Linked DNA regions of Homo sapiens. The protein of the gene in region 2 interacts with the protein of the main gene of each other region in a biochemical or structural test. Each region holds a gene or a part of one and is shown on either strand. Other genes may lie near its edges.

Evidence for each region. Proteins that work in one complex are often made in the same cells at the same time.
Region 1: the proteins of HBEGF (region 2) and CD44 form a complex in vitro, tested with the Homo sapiens proteins (one study listed by BioGRID).

Annotation. Positions count from the first base shown.
Region 1 is NC_000011.10:35,198,171-35,201,670, reverse strand, and holds part of CD44 (CD44 antigen isoform 1 precursor), read right to left. Parts: coding exon 3,425-3,500; intron 1,026-3,424; coding exon of another isoform or gene 754-1,025; exon of another isoform or gene 590-753; coding exon 476-589; exon of another isoform or gene 4-475; coding exon of another isoform or gene 1-3. UniProt on the Homo sapiens protein: Cell-surface receptor that plays a role in cell-cell interactions, cell adhesion and migration, helping them to sense and respond to changes in the tissue microenvironment.
Region 2 is NC_000005.10:140,332,119-140,336,763, forward strand, and holds the end of HBEGF (proheparin-binding EGF-like growth factor precursor), read right to left. Parts: intron 3,910-4,645; coding exon 3,754-3,909; intron 2,631-3,753; coding exon 2,558-2,630; 3' UTR 2,540-2,557; intron 2,163-2,539; 3' UTR 725-2,162; downstream 1-724. UniProt on the Homo sapiens protein: Growth factor that mediates its effects via EGFR, ERBB2 and ERBB4. Required for normal cardiac valve formation and normal heart function. Promotes smooth muscle cell proliferation. May be involved in macrophage-mediated cellular proliferation.

The sequences.
Region 1 (3,500 bases), on a different chromosome or scaffold from region 2:
CTGCTGTGATGATGGTTAAATACACTGTGACTTGTTATCAACCAATCTTTAATGATTCTATTCTTCCATTAAAGTGCATGCTATTTAACAATTCTATGCCAAAGTGTTACCTCTGAGCATCCACTCTCAAAAATTTTGAGTGACTTTACCTAATTGGTCTCAAGAGAAAATCAATGGGCTTGGAATTTCTTCATGTTCCCTTATTATTCCACTATGATCAGTTTGTCAAAGGCAGAACCACAAACCATTCAAACATATTCATTTTTATCATGAAGCAACATAAAAAATCCTGTGCCCACATGGTATAATTGATAAATGACTCCTAAATGGAATTAAGTATCCTCATAAAAGTCCACTAAGAATTTCTTGATCAGATATTAACTAAATTTCCCACTGTGCCTCGATGATTGACCTTTGCAGCATCATGGGCTTTGAGGGGAAAAAAATCTTTCATTAAATATGCAGAACCCATTACCAGTCATCCTTGTGGTTGTCTGAAGTAGCACTTCCGGATTTGAATGGCTTGGGTTCCACTGGGTCCAGTCCTGGTTCTGTTTTGTGTGGTCAAAAGCCCGTGGTGTGGTTGAAACTGTGATAACGATGATTGAAGCAATTAGAAAAATGTTATTTCTTGAGCCTTCGCCACTTGTCCCGCACATAGTCTTGCTTCTGTAGGCTATGCAATGAATCATCTATACCAGGTTGTATAGATGGCTGCATGGAAATGGAGGGAAAGCGGAGGGTGACTTCAGCTTAATTCAGCCATATTGGTAAGCATCTCAGTGTCCTTTGCATTCTGTCATAGAATACCTTGGGGTTCAGAACATGAGATCTTCCAGATAAAACAGTCAAAGAAGCTGCAGCAGTAGGAAGGACAGCTTTGAAAACACCAGCCCTCCACCGAGGATAACCAAAGGCGCCATTTTGCCCATCCATGCAGTCTGTAGTATCCCTCTGCACTTGAAAGCCCAGGGACTTAGTCACTGTGTGCTGTTTGTAGATCCTCCGGGTGAAGAGGCAGATAACTGAAAGTTATACCATGATAATCACTTTATGTTGTTAGTAATTTCAGTGGGGAAAGGAATGCCTGAGCAGCTAGAGCTTTCCTATAGATGATTCTGAAAAAGAATACCTAGAATAGCCATATGTTTTAGCGATACATTTCTGAATATTTATCAAACACTATGGTATTCTCATCAAATACAAAATATGTCATGAGCAAGCCATTCATAGCCAGTGAAAGAAAATAAGACACCACAGGTAACCAGCCACCATCATAGCAGCACACTGGAAAGAAAGAGGCGTACATCCACCAGCACCCTGATATTGTCACCCAATCTGTTAGGGCTGGAATAAGAGATGCACCTAACAGAAGGATCATGACAAAATCTGAGTCAACATGTTTTGTGAAAGGTTATTTGCAAATCCATCCTAATTGTTTCAAACTTTATTTTGATACCCAAATAACGCAAAACTGTTTTCAGAACTATAATACTGTCAGCTCTATTTTACAAGTTATGAAAAATCAAGTTTAGAATCATTAACCACATTCTCAATAGGCCTGAAAAAGTGCTTATTATCAAGCAGTTATCACACCCCTCCAGAAGAAAGAGGGCATCATGTTGAATTATGTCCATAGGTGCTAAGCAGAAAAGAAAAAAAAAGAAAAGCAGAAATTGGAAAAATATGCCATAGAGATTTAAAAAATTAAAAAAAAAAAAAAAAAAAAAAAAAAACAACACCATGGGAAATTTTTCCCTGAAGCCTGACCATACAATTCATTTACAGGTAGATCTGTTTGGGTTACCACCCAAGGGAATTTAATTTCTTCAGTATCAAGACCACGTATTTACTGATGGGCCCATCTGCAAAGCTGGGCCACATGCTGAACACAGGAGACAGTATAATGTAAAACTCCAGTGTTTTTGATTATTTGGTTTTTGTTCTGAAGTTACCAAAAGGAATTTTCTTATTCCATAGATTAAGCTCTGGAGGGGTGTCGGGTCTAAAAAAAAAATCACTTAAAAGTTTAGATAGAAAATTCTAGTTCCTTTTGAGTATTTGTCATATCAATGTTATATACTCAGATGCCTTCAAGGCCTAAGCTATTTTTTTTTCTGGACCCTTTCTTCTCTGTCCATTTGAGGATGAAATTCTCAGATTTTAATGGAATGGATAGAACTTCAGTGAATTGGGAGAGCTCACACAGCACCCCAAAAGCCTTTTTTCTAAGGAAAAGCAGAACTGTGATGGAGTCAGGTTCAGGATTCTCAGCTCTGTTCAGCAAAATCTTAAGTCATTACAGGTATGTGTGGAAAACTCAGTAATCTGGCAGAATATTAGACCAACCTTTGCATGTTTTTAACTTTTTAAGGATATCTTTAAAGCTCAATTTCCATCTCTTTGTTCTCAAAAAGTTTTATAATTGTCAAAAATTTGGATACTATTATGTACCAATAGTGGTTTCATTATTTGCTTTTAATAAGTGGCAATGTCTTGCTAAAGCTAACCTGACATTTGCCCTTCCCTTCAAGGTCTTTCTGCTATATTGGTGTCCAGCTCATTTGTTAAAACTCTGGATTTGTTCCTTTGACCTCAGCTGGGCTTTGATTAACTAAGATAATTCTTGAGTTCTAGCTCCCATCATTTAAGCCTTTAGGGCCTTCAATTTAGGAACTTCCACAACTTTTTTTTTTTTTTTTTGAGATGGAGTCTGGCTCTGTCACCCAGGTTAGAGTGCTGGAGTGCAGTGGCGCGATCTCCTCCTGGGTTCACACCATTCTCCTGCCTCAGCCTCCCGAATAGCTAGGACTACAGGCACCCGCCACTACGCCTGGTTAATTTTTTGTATTTTTTAGTAGAGATGGGGTTTCACTGTGTTAGCCAGGATGGTCTCGATCTCCTGACCTCGTCATCTGCCCGCCTCGGCCTCCCAGGGTGCTGGGATTACAGGTGTGAGCCACCACGCCTGGCCTACAACTTTTAATTAATACCCTCCTCATCACATTCTTCAAGTCTATTGCTCCAACAGACCATGAGCTTCTGAAAAGCAAAGGCTCTGGCTCTTTTCATCTTCGTGTTTCCAGCACCTAGCACAGTAAGTACACAATGTACATTTTTTGTACTGTTTTAATGTCATTCTCTGATAAAGCCTGATCATTCAAAGACAATCTGTAGCAGTAGATCCCATAGATAAATAAAACAGGAAGAACATGAGACAAGAGAAATTTTGTGAGATATTTTCCCCACTTCTCAAAACATTCTATTTCTTCTTCCATAATCTCATCAAGATATAACTAAGGTATGATCATAGGTTCACCCATTTTTCACATTAACTACTTCTCAAGAGAGATACAATTTGGTATCACTCAGATTAATCAATAAGCCTTGCATAAATGGCTGTACTGTAATTGATTATTCTTACTGGTGCTGGAGATAAAATCTTCATCATCATCAATGCCTGATCCAGAAAAACTGAGGTGTCTGTCTCTTTCATCTTC
Region 2 (4,645 bases):
TGGGAGAAGGAATGTGCTGTTGTTTAATACGGTGGTCAGGGAAGGCCTGCAGAGCAGACAAGATCTGAAAGACATGATCACTCTGGCTATTACACTGGAAATATGTTATATGGAAGCAAGATGGAACTAGAAAGGCAGAGGCCATCACAAAAGTGCAGGCATGAGATGATGCGAAATTGGACTGGGTGATGGTAGTGGCAGTGATGAGAAGTGGTTGCATACAGCATGTATTCTAAAGGTAGGGCTGACAAGATTTGCTGATGGATTGGCTGTGGAGCAAGATAGGGTAGTCAAAGACATCTTGTTCTTGCCAGAAGCAATGCCTGCTCATATGTGCAGCATAGGAGTAGATCCTGAGTCCAGGGCCTGTTGACTGAATGGGTGGATATCTTCCCTGATTACAGCCAGCTAAACATGCTGTGCGAAAGATCTGTTCTTTCTTATCTCAGAGATAGCATGGTATAAGTACTAAGACAAAATAATTGGAGCCAGACTACTAGTCCCAGCTCTGTCATTTACTAGCTGTGTATCCTCAGGCAAGTTACACAACCACTTTGAGCCTCAGTTTCCCCTTCTGGAAAAATGGGACAGTAATAGTACCTGCATCGCAGAATTGTTGTGGTAGTATACATAAATAGGCCTGGTATAGAGCCTACCACCAAGTCAGGGCTTAGGAAATAACTAAGTTAAACCAGTTCCCGGTTAAAACAAACAGACAAAAGGCTATGGAATAAGGGTTATCTTTATTTGGATTGCAAAGTATAAATATGAACCAGGTTTGGAAATACAAGTTGTAACAGTTCAGAAATGGCACCAGAAACTTCCAGAAAGGACCATGACAGCATAACTTCATCGTTTTGGTGAGGTGGGTGGGATTATACAAAGCCTTCCCCACCTCCAACCTTCTCGGTAGCAATTGGCAGGTAATCAGTTACCAAGAACAGTCAGCTCCAATGTTCCCTGTTCCTTCTCAGCCTTTTGCTTTGCTAATACCTTCTCCAGACTGTCCTCTGCTGCACTGACCCCTGCATGGAGTAGCACCAGAAGAATGGCAGGAGTTAGAGAAATGTCTTGACACAAGGGAAAGTGAGTTCCCACGCTGTGGGCCTGGGGCCATGGGGGTGAGGGACCAGGAAAGCTACAGGCATGGAAGCCCAACCTCTTCTGAGACTTGGCAGGGAGAGGACACGGGGAGACACTGATATCTGTTACACTTTGACATCAGCACCTTGGGCTTTCAAAACACAAATGGTAGACAAAATCGCCTAGGCAAGACTGAAGTCCAACTCATAGAGTGGCTCTGACCAAGTTAACCCCTACATCCTGACCATACAGAGCTCCCGCAGTGGCACTCTGACCACGGAAGATCTGCAGAAATGTAGACAGACAATAAATTACTACAGATGGGTCACAGAACCATCCTAGCTTTGTGGCAAAGGTGGGTGGCACTAAGCCAGATTGTGGGGATGAGGAGTGGAGGGCCAGGAAATTGCCAAAGTAACAGTCTAGGCACTTGAAATATTATTGTTAGATTGTTAAAAACTAAATAAATTAACATACATAGAATAAAATAAATATATAATTTAAGAGGCATTTACAAACAACAACAACAAAAATAGTTGTTATTTTTCCATCTGGGTAGAAGTCCCAAAATTCAGTTCTCAGGCTTGTGGTATTTCACAGTTAACTCATCAAATCCAGCACTGGAGGGTCCCAATGGCAGATCCCTTGGTGGTACTTGAGTACATGGCTTCTCAATCTTTGTTGCTTTCTTCCAGTTCACAAATCTTTCCTTCTTGCTCTCCTTCTTCTTCTTCTTTTTTTTTTTCAGTCAAAGATCCTGGAGCATATGGAATTTAACCGGCATTCTAATCCAGAAGATAAGTGTTTAAACAAACTTATGAGGGGAAGTGGGGTTTGGTGGAGGGGAATCAGAAGGGCATGAAGGTCCCTTGCTTTTGCTTTCTTCTTACCCAGATACCATCGGACATACTCTGTTTGGCACTTGAAGGCTCTGGTATTTTGGCAAAGCAATTATGGGAGGCCCAATCCTAGACGGCAACTGGGGACGAAGGAGTCTTTGTGACTAGATGGAAGTCTTTCCCCTCTGCAGTCTGAAATCACCTTGTGTCTTCTCAGAGGTAGCAGTCCCCAGCCGATTCCTAAAGCACAAAAGGAAGGCATGTAAAGCCAGGTCCAGTCTAAAGAAGTCTTAAGATTTTCCTGGTCCAGTCTTTTTTATTTTTAAACTTTTTGAGACAGGGTTTCACTCTGTCTCCCAGGGGAGGAGAGGGGAGGGGAAGGGAGGGGATGAGGGTGGGAGAAGCTGTCCTCTCAGGCATCTCTCTTAGGTGTCTCTCTAGCAACTTTTACCTTAAGTGAAGCACTGAGTCTTTTTGAAAATAATTCTGCAATGGGATATTAATGTCACAGTAGCCTGGCCCCCAACCCCTATATGAAGAATTCAGCACCCACTGAAGCACAGCCAGGAAAGGGGACAAAGGATAATCATGTCATGGGGCAAAGGATGGAGCGTTACCTTGAGCACAAGTCTCTCTCAGTGGGAATTAGTCATGCCCAACTTCACTTTCTCTTCATTTTCCACATCATAACCTCCTCTCCTATGGTACCTGAGGAAGATAAGTTTTGTGAATAAGCCCTGCCTGCTATGACAAAGTGCAGGTCCAGAGCAGGTCCTTCCAAAGAACTCTGCCATGGTGGTTTCCTCTACTACTTGGAAAAGCCCAGGCAGTAGGGCAGCCCAAACTCTGGTCAAAGGCCCAACTGCCCCGAGGAACTCCTGTCTCTAATAGCAGGATGCAATTTACAAATAGCTTTCACCTCATTTACGTGATCCTCACAACATCCTTATGAGGTAGATGGACAAACATTACAATCACTACAAGGTTACAATCCTCAGAAAGACAGTAACTTGTTCCAGGTCTCATGACAGATGAGTTACACTGCTTGAAAACAGGCATAGAGCTAGGCACGGTGGCTCATGCCTGTAATCCCAGCACTTTGGGAGGCCGAGGCGGGCAGATCACGAGGTCAGGAGATCGAGACCATCCTGGCTAACATGGTGAAACCCCGTCTCTACTAAAAAATAGAAAAAATTAGCTGGGTGTGGTGGCGGGTGCCTGTAGTCCCAGCTACTCAGGAGGCTGAGGCAGGAGAATGGCGTGAACCCAGGAGGCGGAGTTTGCAGTGAGCCGAGATCACACCACTGCACTCCAGCCTGGGCGACAGAGCAAGACTCTGTCTCAAAAAAAAAAAAAAAAAAAGAAAGAAAGAAAACAGGCATAGAGTGCTTGGTGGGTCTCCCAAGCTAGAGCATACCTGGATTAGAAAGCAGGGCCTGAGGTCCAGACGCCTCAGAAGTGGAAGGATATACCACTAGCACCACCCACACCTTGACTACCAAACCACATACTAATGCCATCAAAGAACAGCCAGGAGAAAGAAATGTGTGACAAAGTGACTCCATGAGTGGGTAGCTGGGTCATGGAGGCAGGAAAAGAACTCCTGTGAGGAGCAGAACCTGCTATGGCCTCGCAAATTTGACCCTGGGCTCTAGACACAGGACTCATGTCATGCCAGAAATACCAGGTTTTTGGAGAATCTACACCCCGGAGCTAGCCCATGATTTGGAAAGATTGAGGGAAGTGCATGTGACCATCAAGGAGAGGGCCCAGGAGGAGGAAGAAAGGGAGTGATTTGCAGAAACAGCCTGCAGGGGACCCCAACACTCACCTAAACATGAGAAGCCCCACGATGACCAGCAGACAGACAGATGACAGCACCACAGCCACCACGGCCAGGATGGTTGTGTGGTCATAGGTATATAAGCGATTTTCCACTGGGAGGCTCAGCCCATGACACCTCTCTCCATGGTAACCCGGGTGGCAGCTAGTTCAAGACAGAACAAGAAGGAGATGGAGTTAGTGCTTTGGCCTCTCTTGGCAATGGCCCACCTGCATAAGCCAAACCCCATTCCTCATACCCTCAGCCTGTCAATCCCTGACCACGATCCCTGCCCATCCTCCATCCTTCTCCTCTAGTAGAAAACTCTTTAAAGCCCCTCTGAAAGCTCTGTAGCATTCCTCTCTCACTTGACACCCTCCCCTTTTCCATTTCCTCTGGTTCTCTGGGCTGAGAATCCTGTTCTAGGCATGGAAAAAGCAAGGGAGGACTTGAAGGCCTCAGCTAGATATGTTCCACGTGTGGCTGATTTATGACATGTGTGTTCAGGCGTTCTGTTTAAGCCACTTATGAGGGCTTGGGCACAAGAGCTGGTAGGCTAAATTGAGGGAATTCGTATCACTCCCTCCAGTGAGGCCCCTCAACATTCTGACCCAGAAATAAACCCAGCCTTCCCCATCGTGCTTCCAGCGTCCAGTCCCTCTCCACTGCTGTCCAGCCTATTAATAGGCCCTGTGCCTCTGCCAGGAGTCGTTTTTCTCAAGTTTCCTTCATTTAACTCCAGCTCCCCCTGGGTGCAGGGCCCAACTTGGGAGCTCAACTCTGGCCTTTGGCCTCTGCACGCTGAGCTACCAGGCCTCTTTCATCACAGGACAAACCAAACAAATCAAGAAACATCTTTCTGCCCAGCTGCCCTGCCAGAGCATGGAAGACTGTCAGAAAC